Regions from separate parts of the Homo sapiens genome. Here region 1 is linked to region 2. The links come from fine-mapping of genetic effects on gene expression. A gene starts in region 2. The other region holds a variant in brackets. All regions are shown on one strand. Distances are from middle to middle.

What was found.
Region 1: its variant is fine-mapped to the expression of SFT2D1 in whole blood (INTERVAL, PIP above 0.99).

What each region holds. Positions count from the first base shown.
Region 1 is chr6:166,294,318-166,309,837 of GRCh38, reverse strand. PRR18 (proline rich 18) reads left to right here and starts at 1,446. Exons shown (of 1, transcript NM_175922.4): 1 at 1,446-4,538. The coding sequence starts at 1,696. The coding sequence ends at 2,583. LOC107986669 (a long non-coding RNA gene) reads right to left here and starts at 2,290. Exons shown (of 3, transcript XR_001744464.2): 1 at 2,115-2,290; 2 at 21-116. RefSeq lists an enhancer at 1,014-1,293 and a silencer at 1,364-1,963. The variant C/T (reference allele first, on the strand shown) is at 5,474.
Region 2 is chr6:166,334,728-166,346,311 of GRCh38, reverse strand. SFT2D1 (SFT2 domain containing 1) reads left to right here and starts at 3,767. Exons shown (of 8, transcript NM_145169.3): 1 at 3,767-3,893. The coding sequence starts at 3,831. LOC100289495 (a long non-coding RNA gene) reads right to left here and starts at 3,681. Exons shown (of 2, transcript NR_040022.1): 1 at 3,165-3,681. It also overlaps the pseudogene HNRNPA1P49. RefSeq lists an enhancer at 2,942-3,835 and a silencer at 3,897-4,056.

The DNA.
Region 1 (15,520 bases), 38 kb after region 2:
CCCATCCTCTCCTGCCTCACCTTCTCTTCCAGTTCTCCACTTTCCAGGCACAGAACTGTGGGCCTCCTGCCGCCACTGACGTGCCTCTTCCCACACCCATCCAGAGATTCTAAAACCTGGAATAAAACATATTGAGGAGGAGGTTTCAGTATCTTAGGACCTCACCTGTCAAGCCGATTAACAGCCTGAGCCCACCGGCAGAGACAGGCTGGCAGGGATGGAGGGAAAGTGCCTGTGAGCTGGGAGGCTTGTTTCAGAGCTGTATTGGGGTGGCTTGGGAGGTGCTGGTAGAGATGACAGGGCCCAAACCTGTCACCCCAACCCAAGCTCTGGTGAGAAGTGTTTCCCACCACCTGCCAGGTTTCCTTGACGCTCCCATGTATCCACAGCGCAGTTCTCTGAGGCCACCAACAGTCAACAAGGGGAGGCGTTGCTGCTGCCTCGGAGACTGAGGCGGCTGGGGGAGGGCCATGCTGTCCTGCTGTGACTGTTGGCACAGGGCACATTTGTGTTTACCCACAGTTGAATGTGCTCTGGAGCTAACCTGGGGCCGTAACCATCACACACCTGGTTTCCATCAGAAAAGTGTATCTGATGGAAAGTACTTTGTGGAGATCTAAGCAGCTGATGATTATCCTTAAGTAATGCAGGGACTGCACACATGAAATGTTGACTTTTTGATCCGTCACTTTGCAATTGTTCAATTATTTATTAAACAAACATTTGAATATTGTAGGATGTCTTCATGTGTCTACGACTAGAATGTAAATTGACAGTGAAGATTTATCTCATTAATTCTGAATCTCTGCTACAGTGATAAATATATTGCTTTGCTCATAAGAATTATTAAAGGGACTTGATGTCTAATATTTGCCATGTAATCAGCATTATATAGCTGAAACTGAACTATTTTGCCTGTTCATAGATACTTAGGTTTTGAATTTGAAAGTGACTCCTCAAGGGGTGGCATGAACACTATGTAAGATTCACTGAGGGTCATTTCTCCCCTCTCAGCTCCAGCCCGCTTTTCTCTGTGAAGCAGGATGTGTCCGGGGCCGCAGAGCTGCATCTACTGGCGGTGCCTTTCCCGCCGTCTCGAAGGCACGGAGAGGCTACAGGGGATTTTCTCTGAAACGTGCAGGGCCTCCACCTGTGACTCCGGAAGGCTGCCGGCTCCCCCAGGGGAATGCTCCTGGCTTTCGACGGACTACATTAACCTCGGACCACCGGAGCGCCAGCTGGGGGAGCCCCGGGATGCCTGGCGCGCGCTCCGCCCTCCGCTGTCCTGGCACTTTGCTCCCATTCAACAGTCGGTCGTGACACCAGCCGGGCACAGCCCGGGGCCTGGCAGGGCCGCGTCCTTAGCGAGCGCGCTGGGCTCCTCCTCCTGCCGGCCCGGCCCGCGTCTCAGCTGTGGGGACCCGGGGGCGCCGCGACTCGCCCACAGTCGGACGGCGGGAGGCGGTTCCTGCAGGGTCCAGTCCCGGGAGCACCCCCAGGAGGAGGGGAGGGTGGGAGCGCCTCTCTTTGAGTCCCCGGGTTTGGTCGCTGGGATGTGAGGAAGCCGGAGAGGCCGCGGCTGGACGCAGGTGGGTGTGGAGGGGCCGCCCGGACTGCGGGGACCCGCTCCGCGCACAGTGGCTGAGCGCCCGCCTCTCTTTCCAGGGGCTGAGGATCCGGCGGCTCGGCTGCACTATGCCCTTCCCGCCCATGCCGCCGCCGCCCGCCCCCGCCCCGGGGGCCCAAGCCGCGCGCCAGTTACCCCGGAGGCCCTGCGCCGCGGGGGACAAGAAGAAGAGGCCCCCACAGCGGCCCGAGGGGCTCCTCTCCAGCTCCTGGCCCTCCGCCACGCTCAAGAGGCCGCCGGCCCGGCGCGGCCCCGGCCTGGACAGGACGCAGCCGCCGGCCCCTCCGGGCGTCTCCCCCCAGGCCTTGCCCAGCCGCGCGCGGGCCCCAGCCACGTGCGCCCCGCCCCGGCCGGCAGGCTCCGGCCACAGCCCAGCGAGGACCACCTATGCGGCGACCTCGGCGGGGACGGGGACCACCGCCGCGGGCACCTCCTCGGGGGCGGGGCCTTGTCCAGACTCCGCTGCGCGCTTCTGCCTGAATCTCACCCCCGAGGCCGTCCTGGTCATCCAGAAGCGTCATCTGGAGAAGCAGCTGCTGGCGCGGCCCCGCAGGCCCTTCCCCTCACCCTCGGCCGAACCCAGGCGCCTACTCGCCCCGTGTCTCCCGGCTAGGGCCGCGGGCCCGCGGAGGGGCGGCCCCGCCAGCGACCCCGACGCACCCCCCACCGCCGGCCAGGGCCGCCGCGCGCCTCCGCCCGGCGCCCAGCTGCTGCACGGCGGCCTGCAGGTTCCCCAGCTCAGCCCGCGGCCCGGGGCCCTGCGGCCGATGCTCAAGGTGTCGCTGCTCAACGAGCGGCACAGGTACGACGACGTGGAGTACGAGGAGGAGCCAGAGGCGGTGGACGAGGGCCTGGTACGCAAGTGCACGGAGTGGCTGCGCGGCGTGGAGTCCGCGGCTGCCGCGCGGGGCCGGGCGGGGGCCCTGGACTCACGGCGGCACCTGAGCACGCTGTGAGCCCAGCGGGCCTGCGGGGACAGGCCAGGCCTGATCCCACCTCACTTCCTGCACGCGCCACTCCGCCTAGGGGCCCTCGGGGGAGACCGCAGGCTCCTCTGGCCGCCAGCGCCCACTTTCGGGACACCAGTGCGCAAGCTGGCCCACGTGGGGCGCAGCCAGACTCGCCCGACGGCCACGGCCCCCCTCCTGCCCTCGCCAGCCGGCAGCCCGGGCCTTTCTCGTTCACACCGGTGGTATCTACCCCAGATGCCTGCCTCTGCCCCCACTCTGGCCTCCTCTTGGCATCGCCGAGCATCCATGCAGTTCGTGGGGAATTAAGCAACTGAGAAAATGCCTCTTGGTGCCCCGACCCCCAGGGTTCGTCTAGGTCCCAGAGACCCTCTGCCTGGAGGCGGGCCTTCCCCAGGGCTACATCTGCACGCCCCGTGGTGTCACCCTCAGCCGGCGCCGGGCACCCTGGACAGTGCGGTGGGCGATGGCCCAGGTGGGTGGCCGCGACGGTGGCCTCCTGCAGAGCTGGGACCCGGTCCTACATTCGTGATTTTGTTTTCTCCCAAGTCAGAAAAATGTTGAGGGTATTAGACATCCCTGAAACTCAGTTAACCGAATTTCCAGTCTCCAAAGCGGAAGGGTAGGCATCGCCAGGCGCTGGTGAGCCCTGGTCAATGAGCGCTTCCATGGAAACCGCTCGGCTGATTACATTTTTTCTGTGTATTATTTGAATAGAGAGTAAAGCTCCTCCGCTGTTTCGTAACCATATCCTTTCCCCCGCTAACTGGAGGCTGATTTCTACATATTTCTTCCATGTATCTGAGAATATCTAACTAGAAGGATGAGAAGGAAATAAAATGTTATAATCAGATAAGGCTGGTTATAAAAGAGTAATGTATTACCTCAATTTTTGACTGACTTTGTAAAAGCCAATAACTGGTTTAATGTTTATCTTGATAGACTTTAAATGTATCAAGTCTTAATTGTATTTTAAATTGAAGCCTTACATTTTTAAAACAGATTTTGTATTTTTCTTGTGGAGGTCTTTGCTCTAATAACACACACACACTGTCTCTCTCTCTCTCTCTCTCTAATTCTAGGCACACATTTAGTTAGATGTGAAGCATTTAATTCATTGGGAGCTAGGTCAGCTGCCAGATGAGTTGCAAAAACAGAAAAAAACCTACCCATTGAATAACTTCTTTGAATTTGGAGATAAGTTTTCTTTTACTTAAAATGAATATATTAATTCTAGAGGGGCAAAACTAGCAATGCTTATGCAAGTGACGGTGCTGCTCTTGTTCCACCCCCACCCAGATGGTCTCTGAGTGCGCCGTCCTGGGCAGGGCACACGGTCTGGAGCTGAGAGGGTGGAGCAAGAGTGCACTGACTCCGAGCCGAGGGCAGGAGTGGCTCAACTTGGTCTCGTCTTGCACTTAGTGCAAATACCAATAATTAAGATGCCTAGACTTCTGCCCTTGGTCACAGTAACAACAACATTTTGAAGACTTTTCCCTGGTGGCATCCTAGAGGGACCGACTTTCTGCAGCCTCTGTCTTCCAAGCTGAGCTTCTGCTGCAGTGTGGCTGTCACTGCACCTGTGTGTCTCCCTGACGTCCCTGTCAGCTGCTTCATTTTGATTTCCTTTCTTCTCCCGCCCTTTCTGTAGGCTCTGTCCCAGCATCTCCTGTTCTTAACTGGCCACAATACAACACTAAGCGCATTTTTAGTAATTTGTATTTATTAAATAGAGTTTGTGGGCCTTGTTCTCTACTTTAAAAGCAGATGAGTGGAACATTTATGTTTCCCTGGTCAATGAGCTTCAATAAAAAACAAACAGAAAAAAGGTTTTACACGTGACACATGATATCTTTTCATTGCTGTTAAGGACATTTTGAGAAAGTTTTCTAAGTCGCTATGCTCCAATTTCTTAATGCTTAAATAAAAGAGAAATTCAGTGACTTGTGATTCTTTTTGAGGGGGACACTGAAAACTGGTCAGGAAGAGACTACTGAGGGATTTACAATTCACATGACATGATTTCTTCATAGTGGCACTCAACCTAAGGTTCTGGGATTTCCAGGAGTTGAAAAAGGTTTGCTGGTTTTAATCACTACTAGAATTTTTAAAAATCACTACCAGGATTTTTAAGATAGTCAAATACTGTAAGGTTATTTGGCAATGACATTTGACCTTTTATGGGGCCACAAATCCCCGTGAAAGCTATATTCCAAAAGGACTCCTAAAACCGTGTACCACATAGCAACAAAACATTGCATATAATTTGCATATATTTTAAGAAGCTCATGGGTCCCAGGTTAAGGACTCCTCCTATATACACTCACTAGAATATTTTTTTTATTTTGCCTAAAGTAATTTCATACTGGTAGGTCATACCAATCAGAAATTAAAGGGTCAATTTGAATAATTGCTAGACTATTAGATTACTATTATATTATTATCAAATTCTCCCATAACTGTAATATCTCATAGCAGGGACTGAGGAGGACTTCCATCCCAGGAGAGAAAATTGGGTGCCACTATGTAAGTAAAAGTGTTGCCAGTTCCAAAGATTGAGCATATATGTGACTTAATTCCCTCTATTTAGAGAATAGCTGGCACTTTAAGATAGGTTTTTATGTTGATCTGCCTTATTTCTAGAAAAGTGGATGCCAAGTTGTCAGAACCATTAGTTGTGGGGTTTCCCTGGAAATCACGCGGTTCAGTTTAGGGTGGGTGATCTGTGGGATCTCTGCTTTTCAGCCAACCGTGGTATATCATTCAAAGAAAGTCTGAAAATAACAGTCTCTCTAGTAAGCAAGGACACTTTTGCATCAACAGAAATGCACACACAGGCCTTTGTGACCTCTGGGAAACCTGGATTGATGTGGTTCCC[C/T]AGCATGGCCTCTGTCCAGATGCTGCCTGGGTAAGGGCACAGCTGCTCCCATGGCCTGTAGTGGAGGCCCCTTGGTCTGGCTTGGAGTCAGAGCGCCCCTCAGCATTGTGTGGGAGAAGGTACCGCACCATGGTTCAAGGTGGGTTTTGGTGCCCTAGAGGCTGGAGTTGCCACACTGATGCTGTCATTTATCCACATCTTTCATTAAACTTCCATGTCTGTTTCCTCTTCTGTCTGTGGGGATAGTTGAACATAGGTGACCCTGGTGAGGATTATGAGGCAATATGCGAAGCGTTCCCCCAGCTCAAAGTTAACTGTAATTTTTACTATTTCAAAAAAGTCTTTACTACTCAAAAAACTCTGGCACTCTTGTGCACATTCAAAACCTCCCTAGTTACAGCATTCTGAGATTTTTATCTTTAACCATTTAATGCACACCTACACTTTTATATTCCTGAGGAATTAAAAAATTAAAATGTCTATTGTGTTTTGCCTTCTTATCTCACACTTAATTATTATGTTATGAGCACAAAATTTAGCTCTGAGCTTCCTGGTAGCAGAGACAAAGTTTAAAGTAAGAGTCATATAATCTCAATATCTAATAACAAGAAACACTTCTTGGAGAAAATTGTTATGTGTGTATTTGGATTATATACAACACAATGGATAGTAGTATCCTTAAATGCAGCTTCTCGAAGATGCCTAAGTGTTCTTGTTGTTTTTTTATTTTTTGAAACGGAGTCTCACTCTGTCACCCAGGCTGGAGTGCAGTGGCGTGATCTCGGCTCACTGCAAGCTCTGCCTCCTGGGTTCACACCATTCTCCTGCTTCAGCCTCCCCAGTAGCTGGGACTACAGGTGTCAGCCACCATGCCCGGCTAATTTTTTTGTATTTTCAGTAGAGACAGAGTTTCACTGTGTTAGCCAGGATGGTCTCGATCTCCTGACCTCGTGATCCACCCTCCTCGGCCTCCCAAAGTGCTGGGATTACAGGCATGAGCCACTGCGCCCGGCCAAAGATGCCTAAATGTTCTTTACATTACTATTAGCTCTTGATGAAAGCCAGTGGGGTCATTATCAGCGACATCCTTGCTGGAACTGGACCATCCCACCTTATGGAGGTGGTGTGGATGGAAACCTACAAAATACAGTAGGGAATCTTCAGGAAGCAGTTTTAGATCTGCTCAAATATTTAGCAAGTACTGCCCTAGTACCTCAGACAATTCGACATCAGTCCTTAAATGTTTGGTCTCGTGACCTCTTTCTAGTCTCAAAAATTATTGAAGGGAAAAAAAGTATTGAGGGAAGCCAAAGAACCTTCTTCAGTGTAGGTTTATCTATCAGTACTTCCTGTATCAGAACTAAGAGACCCTAGAACAATCAAACTGCTGGTTTCATCCATACCATGTTGGCTCCTAGTGCCTGCTGTAAAGGCTGGGTTAGCTGCATCTGAAATGGATGGGAAGTGTTTTAAGAAACAGATATTCCAGACCTCAGACCTAGGGATACTAATTCAGTAGATCTGGGAAAGGGCTGATGTGCCACCAGGTTGGGAGCCATTGCTATATGGCAAGAAATACACGACCAGGCTCAGGAAATACTTCAGGCAGATTTTATTGAAGGTGGATTTAACCAACTGTGTCCTCTCACAAGAGACCCTGCAATGCGACTCTGTCAATATAGAGTCTCCTTTTCTAGGTAGTCATGTCTCCCTTCCTGGCCATGTGTTTTCACGGCAGGGAGGGTAGGATGCAATGACCAAAAATAACTAAAGTGACCCCATGTCATCAGCCTAGGCACCGTCCAGCTCATAGAATTGGGAGTGCTGGCCACTCCACTTCTGGGGGGCCTTGCCCCACATCTCATTCATCCGGAGTCCCCGCCCTTGATGACTGTGTCCTAGGTCTTCCCTCGTCTACCTCTGTCAGCATAATTATGAGAGCCTCCCAGATACAAGCTTCTACAACACAGCACATGCCACTCCCGATGCCACTCCTGATGCCACTCCTGATGCCATCCTGTCACCAGAGCGGGAGGCAGGCTCTGAGAACTGCAGATGCATGGGCGTGTCCTGAAAAGCCAACCCCAGACAGTGCATGGAGCTCAACACCTGATTTTACGAGGAAATTATAACAAGTATCTGTTGAGTATTTCACTTTGAGCAGGATAGTATGCCAGCAGGCCCAGAATTGTTCAGTTATTATTCATTCAAAAAATATTTACCCTGCCTCTACAGGATGAAGGGTATCTGAGACACAAAACTAACTGGAACTGTTCCTTACGTAATCTAATGGGTCAGCATGTCCAAAGGTGTATCCAGGTCTGCCGAGAGCAATGACTTTGGTTTGAGGACAGTCAATATTGAGCGGTTCTTTAGGACAGCCATTGATCTGTATTTGTTTACTTGGGCCAATTTAACAGAATACCACACACTGGGCGGCTTAAAAAACAGATACTTATTTTCTTATAGTTCTGGAGGCTGGATGTTCAGAATCAAGATGCCGGCAAGGCTAGTCCCTGGTGAGGCCTCTTTCCTAGCTTGCAGACGGCCGCCTCCCACACTGCGTCCTCATAGAGCCTTGGTATCTCTTCCTTCTCCTACAGGGATGCCAGTTCTGTTGGATCACAGCCCTCACGTATGTGCCCGTTTAACCTTAAAATTACCTCCTTAAAGGCACTCTCTGCAAATATAGTCACAGTGCATTTAGAGCTTTGATATATTAATATTAATTTGGGGGTGTTGGGGACAAGATCCAACCCAGAACGTGGTCTGTGGTTTCAGTTGCTTTTTAAGGCCACTTATGGAATATGATAGCAAGATAAGATCCTCAGCTTCTTCCCACCACTTAGGTGCACACACAGCACACATACACAAACACACACGTACACAAATGTACACATGCGCACAAACACACTCGTGCACACATACGCAAGCATGCACAGAAACACATAACTTTTGGAAGCATAAAAATAGAAGAGTTTTTATTGAAATTTGAAAAATTAATTAGTTCAACCTTTTTATTTCTACCTACAAGAATGTGGAGATGAAAGAATTTGCCGAACTAGTCAGAAATGTTCAAGCCAGGACTGAAGTCTGTAACCTAAGATTGCAAAGATTTTATTTGCTCCCCACAATCTCTTATTTTTGCCTTTGTATCTGCTCTGAAATTTTGTTTGTTTTTGTTTTTGAGACAGAGTCCCACTCTGTTACCCGGGCTGGGGTGCAATGGCGCGATCTTGGCTCACTGCAACCTCAGCCTCCTGAGTTCAAGTGATTCTCCTGCCTCAGCCCCCCAAGTAGCTGGGATTACAGGTGCCCACCATCATGTCTGGCTAATTTTTGTATTTTTAGTAGAAACAGGGTTTCGCCATGTTGGCCAGGCTGGTCTTGAACTCCTGACCTCAGGTGATCCACCCGCCTCAGCTACCTAAAGTGAGGGGATTATAGGCCTGAGCCACCTCGTCCAGCCTGCTCTGAAATTTTTGACAGAATCTGTGGGCCAGGCAGATAATCTAAGGCATAGTCCCTTAATGAACCTGTGCAGGGCGCAGGCCCGGCCAGGCTGTTCTCCACTGCCTGCTGGCCCACAGCCCTGCGGCTCCAGCCGTCTGTCTGCATTCTGATGCATGTGTACAGAGAAACACTCTGTCTTGCTTTCTCTTCTTAAAAAGTTTTCTTTTTCTTTTCCCCACCTTCTCTCTTTTTTCTTCTTCTGATCACTTCTTGGCAATTTTCATTTGCTTTTAACTTTCTCTTCTTTTTTCGCTAAAGCCATGACCATATGCTGTCTCTAGCTGACTCAGCAGTTATCTTCCTTTCCCTTCTAGGGGGAGGCCACCGAATTAAAAGGACACAGACTGTACATTTCCATATCACTAAGAGAGAAAATCTCAAACGTTCTCATCACAAAAATGTCAAACTTTTGAAGTGATGGATAGATTAATTAGCTTGATTTAATCATTATGCATCATACTCAAAATTCATAACATCTGCATAAGTCCTGGAGGTGGCTTCTCACATATCCACCAACAGGTAGAGCGTCGAGATGCTGGTGCTGACTACTTTGCATGCATGGGCAAGCTTGAGCCTCACAGCAACCTTCTTTGCCTTTACAGGTATAGAAAATGAGTCTCTGGCTGGGCGCATTGGCTCACGCCTGTAATCCCAGCACTTTGGGAGACCAAGGTCGGGGGACGCCTGAGGTCAGGAGTTTCAGACCAGACTGGCCAACATGGTGAAACCCTGTCTCTACTAAAAATACAAAAATTAGCTGAGCATAGTGGCAGGCACCTGTAATCCCAGCTACTTGGGAGGCTGAGTCAGGAGAATCGCTTGAACCCCGGAGGCGGAGGTTGCAGTGAGCCGAGATAGTGCCATTGCACTCCAGCCTGGGTGACAAGAGCAAGACTTCATCTCAAAAAAAAAAAAAAAAAAGAAAAGAAAATGAGTCTCTGAGGGTAAAGCAACTGACAGATTCACCTCACACCTATTTAGTTTTACAGCTGGGCTCATGCCCAGGTTGGCCTGAGTACAAGTTCCTAACCAGTATGCAAAGGGCCTGTCCCAGTGCTGTGGGGCCAGTGGGAGACCAGGTAGGACTTCAGGAGCCTCCCAGGAAGTGGATTTAGGACCTTGAGGGTTCCATGGACCATAGATTTAAAACCTTTGATGGATAATGACCACAGCAGAAATCAGCAAAATAGGACAATAGGGAGGATTAACAAGGTCCGAAGCTGATTCTTTAAAAATAAGATTAGATTAAGCAACCCTTAGCAAGATTGATCAAGAAAAAAAAAATAACAAATTATCAAGACCAGGAATGAAAGAAGGGATATAACTACAGATCCTACAGATGTGAAAAGGATCCGCAGACATGCCGTGAACAGAAAGAGGCCCGGGCCACAGCCCTTCCAGCCCACTGCCCACAGTGTCATGCAGAGTGAGAACTCACCCTCATTTCCCACTGTGATTTTAGAAAGATATTTTTTCTGTGGTCAATACCTTCTTTGCCATAATTAAAAACAGCCAATATACACATGACTGAGGCTGAAATTCTGTGATTTACAATGTTCTTTGTAGGAGTGGACGCAAGGAGGATTTTGCTTTTATTTCCTTCATCGAAAGAATAGATATACAGAACTCCCCCAGCACACATCATCTCAAATGTTTTGAAAAAATCTTTCCCTTTTGCAAACGAGAGCCTAATTTGCATGGCCACAGCATTCATGGAGAGGGGGATGCCTGGTCCCTGGGGCGTGAGAACCCCAGTCCCCCTCCAACACCCACTGCCCTCTCTGAGCAAGCTCTGGACTTTAGCTCACCTCTCCGCCCCTGTAGATCTGTGCAAGAGATCAGCTTCCCACAGCCCCTCCCGCCTTCTAGTAACATCAATAAGAAGACTCACCTTAATTTCCGAGGTCTCACATTCATCACTGACTGGACACAACTGCTTTGTCAGTCTTGTAGATAAAGGCGGGGAAACTCTTTGGGAGGGGTCCCCCATCACTCAGGTAGGAGTGGCAACAACCAACTCATAGCCAGTTCAAGGCAGACATGGCTCCCTTCTGGATGGTGCCTGCCTCAGGGCCTGGGGTCAGTGGAGGGAGCTGGGCTGGGTGTGCCCCTCTCTGTACCTCACCCCATAGGGATGTCCTGTTGGAGCAGGGAGGGAAACATCCCTGCAAATCTACTTTGGACTACCTCCCAACATGCACTTGCCACTGTTGCTTCATGGTCGAGAGGCCAGCAACATTCGAGTTAAGACTGTTTGGGGATTAGAGAAAACGGCCTGTTTCCTTACTATAGCTCACGATGGAGGGGTCGGCATGGGGTTCCTGAGTTAGCATCATGAAAGCAGGAAATCTTTACTCCAGGGAGTTGTTTAAAAAACACTTATACGAGCCAGGCACGGTGGTTCACGCCTGTAATCCCAGCACTTTGGGAGGCCGAGGCGGGCTGATCACCTGAGGTTGGGAGTTTGAGACCAGCCTGGCCAATATGGTGAAACCCTGTACTACTAAAAATACAAAATTAGCCGGGTGTGGTGCTGCATGCCTGTAATCCCAGCTACTCAGGATGCTGAGGCAGGAGAATCGCTTGAACCCGGGAGGCGGAGGTTGCGGTGACCTGAGATCGTGCCATTGCGCTCCAGCCTGGGCAACAGGAGCAAAACTCCGTCTCAAAACAAGCAAACAAACAAATAAAAAACATACAAAAACACTTATACGAAACCAGCTATCTGGGAAAACGAGAAGGAGGACAGGCGCTGAGGGGCACTGGACGGCTCCGACGGGGGCCATGGGTCCCCTGTGCTGGCTCCGGTCCCAGGTCCACCCCTTTCTTGGGGAGGGACCGCCGTGGGGCCGCTTCATCTCTGTGCCCGCTTCCCCAGACAGAGCACAGCAGGTGCCGAGGCCCGTGCCTGGCACTCGGTAAGATGGCCTTGGCCATCGTCTGTCACCGTCACATCTCGTCCCTTGGTGCAGCCCTGCAAGGGTGAGCCTGGCTTGACTGCAGCCCAGCGCCGCGGAGACAATGGAACCACAGAGTTCCGAGACACTCGCTGCCCTTTGTGGCTCTCCTCATCTGCGGTGTCGTCATGCCGCAGAAAAAGAGCACACGCAGCACACAGGAGACAGGGACTTCAGACAAAGGGCCTCGTTCATCCACTTAAAGGACAACGAGCGCCCGCTTCTGTGTCATCCCAGGGTCTGCGGAGGGACATCGAGAGGAGTGGAAGTGTCAATTAAAGAAAACTGAAGAACAGATGAGCTCACATAGTTTCATATTTGTTACAAATCATGATGCTCTCAGGCCAACTGGATCCAGGGGGCAGCCGGGGCTATAGTCAAAGCCGCACTAAAGAGATGACTTTATCTCCCTACTCTCAACAGCAGGCATATATTTTGTGGAGATAGAAAGTTATGAGCACCTTTTCTAGGGATACCTATCTGGGCTTGCAGCCCAGCAACTTCCAGAAGAAACTATAGTCGCATGTCGACAATAAAATATTTACCAGAATTTTAGAAGAATGCATTCTCAATCTTCTCAGGGTAGCACCTCGTGCAACAGCACAGGAGAATATTGTGATCACACCAGTGATATTTTGCTGTGTGTAGTTTTTAGGTTACACTTACCTTTGTTTTAAAATAGATCTGGTTAGGATGATAAATGAGGAGCTGGGAAATGAAGGGATAGAGCGAGTTCTAATTACGTGAAGATCTCTAAGAAATAGTCTTGTGCTTTCTGAACCCAGGGGAGCGTGTTTCCAGTGGTACTGGAGACCTGGGAATAGGCTGGCTGGAATTGCCTGATGTCTCAATTTTCCATAGCCTCCCCCAGCACTGAACCCCATGAGCACGTACTTAGTGATGATGGCTGAAGATTCTATTTTTGCTGTAAAACACAGTCAGTACCATTAGGGTGAGCACGGCAAGGCAACTGGAGATGGCTCATTTGCTCCATAGTAAGCTACTGGGATTTTTTTAACGAGGAGAAGGGAGGGCGTGAAGTGTTTGAAGAGGTGGGAGAGGGGTGGGCAGGGCACCCAGAATGAGGGAAGACTTGGGCATGGAAGGAACAGGGTCAGCTGACGCCCACTGGTGTCACCTCTGCCCTGCCAGCCCTGGAGGAAGAGGAAGGAGAGAGCTGGTGAGCGGGAGGGAAGAGGAGGAAACCCACTTGCCCTGGGCTTTGCAAAGTGCTGGAAGGTTCCCTGCTCACTTCCCTCTCTCTCAAGCCAGCCCCTCCTCCAGGTCCAACCAAATTCTCCGAAGCTCAAAATGGTTCGGATCTTTCTCTATGAGAAACTCCTTCAGAGTCAGTTTTTAACGAAACAGACTCCAATCAGTACCATTTGTCTTTTTTGGACCACATCTGTGGGATGCATAAACAGAAGCGTCCTGTGTGGCTTGCTGGGGCTGTGCTGGGCTTGCTGACATGAACGTCCATAGGTACTTAGATTGCTTCATGTTGATTGGGTTGATCAAAACATCCTGAGTCACTCTTTCATTCTACAGACCAGTGTTTCAGATTTTTAACTGTTCTGCAATGCATGGATTTCTTTAACTGTAATAGCACCAATAACATCCCCAGATGGGATTGCAGAGAATGAAAGACTTGTTCCTTCAGCTGGGACTAAAGAGCCTGCTATTGTTTCCAGAGCATTGCTAGCTGACTCTGGTACGTACAGCTTGTTAGTGTTGTTGATTTCTTCAGGAAATTGAGAGAGAAAAAATTTCAAGTACTTGGTATTGTGGACAAATTATTAATCCCCCTCTCAGGACACTTGGCAGCTGGGTAATGCACCAGTAGACTGGTGCACATCTAGGTGGATTTCATGAAGCTTAAAGGGGATTCACCCTGCAGACTGGTTCTTTAATATCATTAGACTATGAACTACACATTTCCAACAGGGTGTGTTGACATGGCATGTATTTGTTTACCAGTAATGTTGGAAGGACCCAGAGCTGTCTCACATTTAGCTGACTTTATGCTGTTCCTCCCACCCCGCCCCAACACAAACACACACACACACACACACACACACACACACACACACACACACTTCTGCTACTGCAGACCTGATAGAAGGGCATGGAAAATTCTGCCTTGTGCAACTGACCTTCAGGCATCACAGAATAGAACAATTTTCACTTAAAGCTTTCTCTATCTGATTTTTTAAATTATAAAATTATATGTGCTCATTGTGCCCAAGGATAGAAATACATAAAGACAGAGTTAAAAGTCCCGATGCTCCAAGGTTCTCCTTACTGTAAGAATTAAAGAAAGAGGAAAAAAACACGAAAAGTGGCTCGACAGTCAAAGACAGGTTTATTTTAGAGAATAAACCTGAGAGGGGCTTCTGGCCGAGTGAGGTCAGAGGCACTTTCTCTTATAGACTAAGAGTTTTTAAGGATTCAGGGAGGGAACGTTTATCAGAGGCTTGGACTGCTTCTGTGTCTCCTTGTTGTGCTTATCTGGGAGGGAGGGTTGTGTCTGTTCCCATACATCTTTCTGCAGCTGCAGGCATACCCCCGCTTAATCCACCCCCGAGTTCTGCTTTTAGCTTCCCTATCTTAGTGCACCTGAAGAGAAAAGAATGTGCTTATTAATGCCCACTGTTTTACTGGGGCCCATTTTATGAGGGTGAAGTTTGGCAGTTACCCAAGAGACTTCCCCACACCTGCCTCTGTGCCTGAGCTGTCTTATCTGTGTTTTACTGTCTGCTCTTTCTGACTGCTTGTTGTTAGAAGAGAAGTGATTTCCTTGAAATGCATGAGGCTAGAAAGGGAGCTGGAACTTAAAGTGGTGGTGTTTGTCCAAGATGACAGTGCTCCAACTCTGTCATTTACTAAGATGGCCAAGTCAACCTGAAGTGGATTCTTCTGACATTTTTCTTTCAGCCTTAGATTTATTATTTTCCACACTTGTTATGATTCTGTTCTATGCATTTGCAATTTAAAAAACCTGAGGACTAATACAGTTATGTTTTTCTAAAAAACTTTCAGTTTTGGCTGGACACAAAGGCTCATACCTGTAATCCCAGCACTTTGGGAGGCCAAGCTGGGAGGATTGCTTGAGTCCAGGAGTTTGAGATCAGCCTAGGCAACATAGCAAAGCCCTATCTCTACAAAAAAAATTTAATTAGCTGGGTGTGGTGTACACCTGTAGTCCCAGCTACTTGGGGTGCTGAGGTGGGAGGATTGCTTGAGCCCAGGAAGTTGAGGCTGTAGTGAGCCTGATCACACCACTGCACTCCAGCCTGGGAGACACAACAAGACCCTGTCTCAAATATATATGTCTGATATTAGAAAAAAGACTTGCCTATTTGGTTACAAAAAGACTTTAGTAGTGCCTCAAAGGAGCCTGCCTGCCTGTCACCAGCACAGTGTCTCAGGCAATTGTGGCTGTTGGCTGTCAAGCTCCCACCCCTGGGGGACTTGTCTGCTGTTCCTGAGGACAAACTGTCAGGACAGCAGGCTGTCAGAGCAACCAGTTGGGGTTTGGTTTTCCCAGCGATTGCGGGCGTGCGTCTTCCATTCCCTC
Region 2 (11,584 bases):
CCACTCCTTTGTTAGGGAGAGACATTCTAGCAAAAGCAGGGGCCATTATACACTAGAATTAGAAGGAAAAAGGTTAAATATACAGACTCTAAGCATGCTTACCTAGTCCTCCAAGCCCACGCAGCAATATGGAGAGAAAGGGAATTCCTAACTTCCGAGGGAACACCTATCAAACATGAGGAAGCCATTAGGCCCCCCAAATTCTCTTTACCTCTGAATCTACGTCCTCTGATCCCTGCCTAAAGATAATTTTGTGGGGAAGAGGATTTGCTTGTGTCTCTCCAGGTGACACTCAGGTGTCTGTGTGGGTGCCCACCAACCATCTGAAGATCTATCACGAGCCACGGCATCTAGTGGACCCACATGTAGAGTACAGTGCGAATTGAAGGTTTGAAAAGCCTCGATTTGCTTTCTCTATGCCTTCTGTTAATCAGAAAAGGCCTGTTTCTCATTATCAGTGGCCTCCCGGCTACAGCCACAAAAGTTTTTGCTTCTGTTTCAGTAGATTTACTAACGTGGGGGTGAGGGTATGCTTGTGTTTTTGCAGGAGATGAACAAACCGTGTGGATACCCTCAAGATGTGTACGACCATGGAATGGGAGACTGGAGGTACCCATGGATCCCAACCTTGGACCGGGTTCCCCCAGTGTGAGCCATGAGCCAGTTGAATCTGAATGCGAAGAAGGAATGAGGACCGACCGGAGTCACGATGCTTAACGGGCCAATGCTTTCTGACTCAGCTCCTCTCTACCCTGAATATGAGAGACCCTAACAGTTAGACAGGAATATCGTCACCCCTATTCAGCATGAAGAAGTTACAGAAGATGGACCTTCATCCTTCTGCAACCCCTAGGATTAAGGGTCTTCTTGTAAAAGGGAAAGGGGAGATATGTGGGAAGCATTCAAACCAGAGCCATGCTAGTAATAATGATAGCTAGTAATAATGATATCTTCTCTTTTACAATAAAGAGAAGGGGGGCATGCTGGGAAAAAGCTGAGTGTTGGGGGGAAACTGAGGCAGGGCTTGCATAATGTCCTCTGGAATGTGTCTAGACTTGCTGGCTCCTTGCTTCTAGCCTTCCTAGGCTCCTAGGCACCTATTCCCATTATCTCAAGTAGCAGAACATGTTCCATATAAATGCTAAACTGTCACAGCTGTAAATCATGTGCTTAATGCAACATGACCTCCACATTCTCACCACCTGTTTCTTAGTTGGATTACCAATAAACACTGTGGGCTCCCAGAGCTCGGGGCCTTCACAGCCTCCGCAATAGCAATGGCCCCTGTTGTCCCACATTTCTCTCTCAAACTTTTTTCTCAATCTTTTGACTCTGCTGGACTTTGTCACTCCCACAACCTGGTGTTGGGTCTGATCACCCCAACAATTTTGTGCATGTCCTTGTGTTCAGGAGTCATTGGCTCTTGAAAAAACTATGTGGCCAGGAAGCAGGAAGAGCTAGGAAGTAAGGTTTTTTTGTTTGTTTTTTGAGACAGAGTCTCACTCTGTTGCCCAGGATGGAGTGCAAACGAGCGACCTCAGCTCACTGCAACCTCCACCTCCTGGGTTCAAGCGATTCTCCTGTCTCAGCTTCCCAAGTAGTTGGGACTACAGGCGCCCGCCACCATGCCCAACTAATTTTTGTATTTTTGGTAGAGACGGGGTTTCACCATATTGTCCAGGCTGGTCTCAAACTCCTGACCTTGTGACCCACCCGCCTTTGCCTCCCAAAGTGCTGGGATTACAGGAGTGAGCCACCGCGCTCGGCCTATACTTGAAAATCTTGAAAGCAGTTATGTCAGATATGTGAACCAGAGAAGCCCATCTTGAATAGCGGCTGGGTAAAATGAGGTTGAGACCCACTGAGCTGCATTCCCAGACAGTTAAGTCATTCTAAGACACAGGATAAGATAGAAGGTCAGCACAAGATACAGATCATAAAGACCTTGCTGATGAAACAGACTGCAGTAAAGAAACCGGCCAAATCCCACCAAAACCAAGGTAACAAGAGAGACCTCTGGTCGTTCTCATTGCTACACTCCCACTAGCGCCATGGCAGTTTACAAATGCCATGGCAATATCACGAAGTTAGCCTATATGGTCTAAAAAGGGGAGGCATGAATCCACCCCTTGTTTAGCATATCATCAAGAAATAACCATAAAAATGGGCAACCAGCAGCCCTGGTAATAGACAGCCCTGCTCTGCCTATGGAGTAGCTATTCTTTTGTCCTTCTACTTTTTTTTTTTTTTTTTGAGACGGAGTCTCGCTCTGTCGCCCAGGCTGGAGTGCAGGGGCGCGATCTCGGCTCACTGCAAGCTCCGCCTCCCGGGTTCAAGCAATTCTCTGCCTCAGACTACCGATGTTCCTCTACTTTTTAAATAAACTTGTTTTCACTTGCCCTGAATTCTTTTTGCGCAAGATCCAAGAACCCTCTTTTGGGGTATGGATCCGGACCCCTTTCCCGTAACACTTACGGACATACTCTCTTATTCAACAGAAACATAGTTTTATTCTATAGATTTTACAATCTATTTTCTGACCTTTTAAAGTTAAGGACATAAGGATAAGACTTCTCATATTAGTATGAACAGGCCACATAGAAATATCTTCTGCCTAAAGGAAAAGGATGCTGAGCATTGGACCGTTTCATCACAAGAAGGCGCGACTTGCTTTCCTAGGGTTCCTGTGGTATTTGTTTTTATCTAATTGAGTTTAGATAAAATCTCTACTGAGGCAGTAGGATGGACAATGAAACTTTTTGAGGATCCACCTTTTAACTGAAAGATTTTAGGGAGGAAATGGAGTGGGCAAAGTAATCAAAAGAACAGGCATTCTCATTACCATCTTACCAAGCCTAGAAGCAAACAGAAGAGCAAAACCTATCACTTAATGACTTCTGGAGACCATATTAGACAGGCAGCCCTGATTTTTAATCTCCTTTCTTAGCATGGTGGAAAATGAGAGAGAGAAAAATGCCACTTCCCCATTTCTTAGTGTTTGTTCATCCAGCACGAGCCGGAGAACAGTAAACGCTTGTTCAATGGTTTCACTGTTCACACAAAACTGGAAAAATGGGTTGCATTAGCTATTCCTTTTATAAATAAGATTTCACTCTTTCAAACTCCTAGCTGACCAGTGAACTGAGTAAAGAAATAGCTCTCACAAGGGCAAAGGAGTGAGGCAGCCTCTTGCTATTTCTCCTGAGACGGTCTGAAATACAGCTCCTCGCTTTAATCCTGAGGCAGGTGTTTGTGTCTCCGGATGAGGACACCCAGCTGGGAAGGCTAGCGACGCCCCCAGGGCCACCTCATGGGTGGCAGGGCGCTCTTCGGAGCACGGCCACCTGCCCGCAGGAGCCCTCCGCTCTCCGATTCCAGGCGAGGGGAGGCGCATTCGGGGCCTCGACTTCTGGGAACCCGGGGTGCCGCGGACCCGCCCAGCAAGGCCCCTCGCGGGGCCCGGAGGACGCCAAGTGCAGGGTTCAGTGGTCGTGCCCCAGTCGGGTCTACACTCAATGGCTGTGCGCCAGCTGTGGGCAGGGGGTCCACACCCGCGCTGTGTCCCCGCGCGTTACCACGGCGCACCTCGCGGACAGTGGGAAGGGATAGCCCCACCATCAGCGCCCACTCCGCGGACTTCACGGACCACTACCGGGTCCGAGAGAAAGGCTGGTGAGCATGCGCGCATTGCTACGGCGGCCGCGCTGACGCACAGGAAGCGGGCGGGACCGGACTTCCGGCTGGTCTGTGGGGTTTCGGGTTCGGGGTTTCCTGGTGGGCGTCAGGGGCAGGCAACAGAGTGGCGGCCGCTACGGCCCTGTAACAGGGCCATGGAGAAGCTGCGGCGAGTCCTGAGCGGCCAGGACGACGAGGAGCAGGGCCTGACTGCGCAGGTAGCGAACTTGCGCCCTCGTCCAGTCCCGGGGCTGCCCGCTGGCCCCGGCCGCACTGAGGACCGGCCGAGCGGGTGGGGTGGGTGCGAGGCCGGGGGTCTGGGACTCCTCTGCCCGGCTGGTTGATTTAGGAGGGCTCCGCCTGCTTCCTGGGTAGAATTTGAGAACTTTCCAGTTTTCCATGCGGTCTACTTAAACCCACTTTGAGGCCCCCCCCCGACTCTCCCATCTGGCCTTCTGACTTAGGAATCCGCTAACGTCTGCCCTCGCTTTCCCAAATAATCCATCGCTCCCACGTACTATTTGGTTTTCTGAGCCTGGTGCGGGGTCTGGCCTCGGGCTGTGCAGCGTAAGTAGCTATGCAGGGCATTTATCCTGCAAGCTGCAGTGAGCCGAGACCCTAAAGCTTGTTGCATCTGTTTGTCTTTGGAGGTAAAGGTGGTGTTATGTGTGTGTTTGCTGGGGGGTGGTCTTTTGGAAATAGGGAGACTGGAGGAAAAATAAACAGGACATTGGTAAGTGAAATAATATTGAATTAAAATTTTTCTGTTAAGGCAGTGAGCCCTGGTAAGAGATTTTTTTTTTTTTCTTAATAAAAGCCCTTGTGTCTGCGCCTTACCAGCGAGACTTGATAAGGGTTACTTCCTCCAGCAAGAAGGTTAAAAGTAGCAGTGGAGCAGGAACTGCGGTGTAAGTTTTTTTGTTATTGCATGCGATTATATTGCACGTTATTGTGTGCTGTCGCAGAAGTTGGACGTTTAAAATTGAATTGTATTTCATAAGGATCTTCTATTTGTCTCTCCTGACTTCCTTGTCATTATACTTACTCAGCACTTGGTGTGGGTAGAGTTCTGGGCTACAGTTTTGGGTTCAGAGAGTGTAAGACAAGTATCTGTTCTCATTGCACTCTGTAACTCTGTATATTACCACAGCCACATGTGGCCAATGAATTTTTTTTTTTTTTTTTTTTAGATGGAGTCTTGCTTTGTCGCTCAGGCCTGGAGTGCAGTGGCGTGATCTCGACTCGCTGCAACCTCTGCCTCCCGGGTTCAAGCAATTCTCCTGCCTCAGCCTCCTGAGTAGCTGGGATTACAGGCACCTGCCACCATGCCCTGCTAATTATTTTGTGTTTTTAGTAGAGATGGGGGTTTCACCATGTTGGTCAGGCTGGTCTCGAACTCCTGACCTCAAGTGATCCGCCCACCTTGACCTCCCAAAGTGCTTGGATGACAGGCTTGAGCCACTGCGCCTGGAGCAATTAAATTTAAATTAATTAAAATTAAATAAAATTTAACATTCAGTTCCTTAGTCACAGCAACCACATTTCACATGTTCAGTAGGCACATGTGGTTAAAGGCTACTGTATTAAACAGCGCAGATACAGAACATTTGCATTGCAGAAAGTTCTATTGGACAGTGCTACTCTAAACTTTGGAGATGCAAAGGTAATATCACTTATCTTGAGCCCACTGTCTAGAGGGGAGAAAGATATGTGGAGAAGTAATCAATCAAAGATTAGAGTGACTGGCTGTATAGACAAGTGCTGTGAGTTCAGAGGAGGTGATCGTTCATTAACAAATATTCAAGTTCCTGCATATGTTTGACATTGTTCAAGATGCAGGTGTTAATAACAGTGACCAGTGCAAATACCTCTTTCACATGGAACTTAAATTTTAATTGGAGGAAACAGTGAATAAACAAGTATATAATGTGTCAGACAGCCACAGAAAAAGTCAGAGCAGGTTGAGGAGGTTGGGGTTGCCATATTACTTAGATAAGGCCTCCCTGCCAGGGAGTCATGTGAGCACAGCTCAGAAGAGCTGCTGGGATGTCTGAGCATCCTGTGAATAAAAGCCTCCAAGGCAGATACAGAGTCCCAAGTGGTGTGTGGTCAGCATGTTCAGGGCCAGTAAGGAGGCCAGAGGGGCTCTAGCAGCGGGGCAGAGAAGAGGGACAATTGTAGAAGAAAAGGTGAAGCAGGAAGGGGGATTCTCAATTGTGAGGGTTCTCATAGGCCATAGAAAGGATTTTAGCTTTACTCTGAGTGTGATAGGAAGCCTTTGGGTTTAGAGCAGAGTGGTGGTGTGACCGACTTGGATTTTAAAGGATCACTCTGGCAGCTCTGTGGAGAACAAACTGTAGAGGCAATGTTAGAAGCCCAGAGACTGGGCTGGAGACAAGTACAGTTGTCCTGGCAAGAGATGACTGTGGCTCAAATCAGTGATAGAAGTGGTTTAAAGAGCAAAAAAGCCTGTTTAAAAAACAAAAAAGTGGTCAGATTCTGTAAATGGTCTGAGTGTACAGCCAGCAGGCCACACTGTTGACGGATTGGATGTGTGAGAGTGGGAGGAGGCAAGGATGCCTCATGGCATTCGACCTGAGCATCTGGAGAGGTGGAGTTGCCATTAAGTGACTGTGGGAGGAGCAGGTTCAGGGAGGAAAATCATTTCAGTGTGGACGTGAAGTCTGAGATCCAGGTAGCATCCAAGTGGAGATGTGAGGAAAGCAGTTGGACGTAACACTGTAGAGTTTGTGGGAGGAAATAGGAGAGAGATGAGATCGTCAAGATGAGGTCCAAGGTTTGACCTCTGGTTTTCTCTAGGTGTGTAGAAGTTTAGAGGATGAGCAGAAGCCGGCAAAGACAGCTGAGAGGCGTGGCGAGAGAAGGAGGAGGAGAACCAAGAGAGAAGGATGCCCCAGAAAGTGAGGGAAGAGAGTGCTTTAGGAAGGGGATGGGACCCAGTACTGTTGATGGGTCTCAGAAGTTAAGAGCAGATTACCCGTGGAGGTTATCAGTTGTCACTTCCACGAGAGCAGTCTTGGTGGCTGGATGGGGTCAGAGGCCTGATTGAAGTCAGGGGAGAATAGAAAGAAGATGGAGATGGTATGGCCATCTCAGTGATTTTTCCTGTGGAGCAAAGAAGTGGGTGGTAGTTGAAGGATGCAGTGGGGTCGGGGAACATGTCATTTTCCCAAGGAAAATACTGGATGTTTCTGTGCATTGGGAATGGTCCAGGAAAGGGGAAAATTATGGTGCAGGCAAGAGGGAATTGTTGCTAGGGGGCTATTGAGGAGTGACTTGGAAAGCAGGTTTCTCTAGGGAGGAGGAAGGGGCAGGAAGTGGCAGTGAGGAGGGCAGACACCTAGCTCACTGCCTGTCCAAGTGGTACAGGATTCACAGGGGAGAGCCCTGGTCCTGGAGACTAAATTTCAAACCTAGCCGGAAGGTGAGAGGATCATCAGAGAAGAGGGTGAGGACATAGGGAGGTTTGCTGTTGGTTTTTGGAGATGGGTAGGAGATGAGATGGGATTAAAGGCGCACAGACCTGAATGGGGTGAGGGATGACCTGAGAGTGTTGCACGTCTTGTGCAGCAAGACGTAACCAGGATGGCGGGCACATTGGAATTGGGTCTTGACAGGGATGGTTCTAGGCCAGTTGAGGAGTTGGGCGAGGCAGTGAAGGTCATAGGGGAGCATCCTGACATCCAGGCTGCATCATCCTCCTATGCAGGCGCTTTGAGCCCCGGGGAGAGGCACGGTAGCCAGAGTTCTGGGACCTCTCCTTCGAGATGCCTGGGAAGAAGTCAAGGAGGGAGAGATATTGAGCCAGATCTTAAGAGAGTTGATCATATTCCTCCCCTGATCACATCCTTCATTGACTTCCTGCAGCACTTGAGTAAAATCCAGATCCCTCCCTTGGCCTCTCAGCCCTGCACTGCTTGTCGGCCCGCCTCCCCACCCTCTCCCCAGTGCTTGCCTTGCCCTGCCCTCTTTCTCCTCCTCAGTTGGAGCCATTTTCTTCTGCCTGGGAGACCTGGCAGTTGCATTTCTTTTTTCAGGAATGCCCCTTCCTGGCTCTTTTCAGAGTTGGATTGGTCACTTCCTGATGTCTTCACTTGGTCACCTCTTTAGAGAGGCTCTTCCTGACCCAGTTACTCTGCCCCTATTTATGTCCTTAGTAGAACCTGCCTCATTAGTTTATTGCCCATTTTCCCCCATCTGAATGTAAGTACGCTAGGTGCTGTCTTATTCCTTTCTGTGTATGTAGAACCTACCAAGTACCTGGTGTCTAATAGCTGTTCATAACTACTTGTTGAACAAACAGATGAGTGAGTTGTTTGGATTTGGGTAACTACCAAGGAGAGCTGAGGGCATTGGCATAAGGTAATTGTTGGGAGTTAGATGACAAGAACATAATGCCGGAACATTCTACAGAGTTCTCTTGTGGGAGTCCTACTAACCCCTGCTGACAATTTGCGAGATGTCTTAGTCCATTCAGCCTGCTGTAATAAAATACCTTAGACTTTGTGATTTATAAACAACAGAAATTTATTTCTTACGGGTTTTGAGGCCGGAAGTCAGAGATCAAGGTGCACTCATGGGTTCTTGGTGAGGCCTCCCCCTTCCTGGTGTCACACTGTTGCCTCTGGTTATATCTTGACATGGCAGAGAGCAGAGAGCTTTAGTCTCTTTCTCGTCTTATTAGGGCGTGGATCCCATTCATGAGGACTCCATCCCCATGACCTGATCATCTCCTGAAGGGCCATCTTCCAGTACCATCACCATGGGGTCGAGGATTTCAGCAAACACTCAGACCATAGCACACAGGTTGAGACAAGTCATTTGCTTGTTGACTGAGTTATTTCATATTTACAAATGGCATTAATTTATCATGTTTCACTTCAAAGATCACCGCGTGGAAGATGGTAATAAGAGAAAAATGCCTAATAAACAATTTAAGCTCTCTCTGCCTTTCCCACTTAGAAGATTGTAAGTATACCTACCTTATCTATTTCCCTCACTGTTCCCATGGTAGGTGTGGGTGAGGTGGTTAGGGGGAGTGTAGAGAAACACAAGGAGGAAGCTGTCTTTCCAGGTAGAAGGAGCTAAGGCGGCAGAGGAGACCCCAAGCAGGAGCAGCTGGCGAGGCGGGAGGACAGTCAGGAGAGCCGGTGGGACATGGGAGTTGAAGAGAACATTGTAAGCAGGAGGGAGTGCCAAAGTGTCCTGTGCTGTTGAGTTGGAAAGGATACTGATGCTTCAAAAATGTTCCTTGGAATTAAGGACACGGAAGTGACTTGTGTCTGCAGGGTTTCAGCCAGGGGAGGGCTGAAGCTAGAATGGTCAAGGTGAGCTTCCCAACCACTGTGCCAGGCGTGTGCCAGCTGGGGGTCCCGTCTACTCCTACAGCCTCAGATAAGGATTCCTGGGAAATAAGGCACTGGGCTAGGAAGGGAACTACATGAAAAAGTGTGGTGGGCCGAAGGGCCTGGGACCTTGACTGCACCTCCCCAGGGGCTACACTGCCTGGGCTGTGCTCCAAGTCTGGTGTGCAGAGGGAGCTTTCCCCGGGAGGCCTGCCTGCTAGAGCCTGTGTAATTGCCTGTGGCCAGCCCCAAAATCACTCACAGTGCTGTGGTCTGAATGTCTGTGTCCCCCCCAGAATTCCTATGTTGAAACTTAATCCCCAATGTGATGGTATGAGGAGGAGGTGCCTTTGGGATGTGATTAGGAATGGGTTTCATGCCCTATTAAAAAAGAGGCCCCAGGCCACATGCAGTGGCTCATGCCTATAATCCCAGCACTTTGGAAGCCTGAGGCAGGAGGATTGCTTGGGCCCAGGAGTTCAAGACCAGTCTGGGCAACATGGCGAGACCCCGCTTCTACAAAAAATTAAAAAATTAGTTGAGCGTGATGGTGTGTGCCTGTGGTCCCAGCTACATGGGAGGCTGCGGTGGGAGGATTGCTTGAGCCTGGGAAGTTGAGGAAAAGAAGGATCCATTGCCCTTTCCATCGTGTGAGGACTCAGAAGGTGTCATCTGTGAACCAGAGATGCCTCACCAGACGCCGAATCTGCTGGCGCCTTGATCATGGACTTCCAGTCTCTAGAACTGAGAGAAATAAGTGTCTGTTGTTTATAAGCTACCCAGTCTACAGTGTTTTTTTAAGAGAATTAAATAGTTTATTAGCTACATACAATTATGGATGATACACAAGCTTCATTCCCATCTATAATGTTATCTGGTACCATTATTCAGTTTAGATATATTGCATGGGATGTGCCAACAATCATTTTTATAACTAATAATTCTGTGACTTTGCTTGGGTGATCCCCTTTGGTGGTGAACTTCAGGTCACAACAGTAACTGTCAGTTCAGCTACACCGAGCTCACTGAAGACAGTGGCTTCTCCACCCGAGCAGAGTGTAAATAAGTTCCAAGTAGAACCTGGCATCACCCTGAAGGAATTCTGACTTCACACTCTTGGGGGAGTTTACCAAGATGGCTTCCGAGGAGACTAACTTTACACAGCACGTTTTTTAAAAGGACACATTTATTCAGTCTCATGATCAGACTATTACATTTAGCAATCAACAGCATGAGTGCAAAAGAAAAAAATTACATTAAAACCCTTTGTTGGAATGCTTGGTACTTTCCACAGAACAGAAACGAAAATAACCTGTTAATAAAATTAGTCACAAATACAGTCCTGGAGTTTTTTGCTCATACACGTGAGTATTGTCTAAAACATATCTTCTTTGTAGCAGCTGGGCTCTGCCACCACTGTGCTTGGCTGACTGAGTTCACAAATCTCTTGTAACCTGTAGCTTCCCTATCGCTTCTCTGGCTCTCCTTTCCGGCTAAACTTTGTTTCCTGGCAGTGATTAAAATCTTCTGCCAGTGCCATGGCTACTGCTGCTACTAGAACCACCATAGCCACCTTGGTTTTGTGAACCCATTTATGCCTGGTATTCCATTATTGGAACGCTAAGCATGTGGGAGTTATTTATGTTCTCCTGTTCAAGGTCATCGCCAAGGTCTGATTTTTCAAATTCAAAAAGTGCAACCTCAGGCATAAATGGGTTAAAATCTTCTGCCAGTGCCATGGCTACTGTTGCTACTGGAACCACCGTAGCCACCTTGGTTTTGTAAAGTAAAGTAAAATTTGGCAAAGTATTGTTCTCCACCACCATAAGGGCCAGAGCTTCTGCCTCCAAAGTTTCCTCCCTTTATGGGTCCAAAATTTGAAGGCTGATTGTTGTAATTGCCAAAATCATTGGAGCTTCTGCCACCTCCAGAATTGATTCCATCATTACCAAATCCATTACAGCCATCCCTGCTGCCACTGTATCCACCGCCACCGCTGTGGACAGCTGCCACCAAAGCCATCATGACCACTGAAATTTCCTCCATGACCGAAGTTGTCATTCCCACCAAAACCACCTCCACAACCACCACCAAAGTTTCCAGAAGCACTTCGACCTCTTTGGCTGGATAAAGCACTAGCCATCTCTTGCTTTCACAGGACTTCCCTAACTTCACAGTTTTGGCCATTCACAGTATGGTATTTCTGAGTGACAGTCTTGTCCACAGCGTCGTGGTTGTCAGAGGCACGAAGGCATAGCCCCTTTTCTTGGCACTACCTCTGTCAGTCATGATTTCAGTCACTTCAGTTTTTCCATACTGTTCAAGATCTCTTAGGCGATGTTCTTCAATGTCTTCTTTAATGCCGCCAGCAAATATCTTTTTCACAGTTGGGCACCTCGTCTTTGAGAATCTTCTCGAGACAGCCCTTTGGTTCCACAACTCTTCATCCACCTTGTGTGGCTTTGCATTCATGGCGCATCCACCTCCTTCACAGCGGCATACAGGACAAACCCAAAGCCCCAGAGTGCTTGGTGCTTGGATCT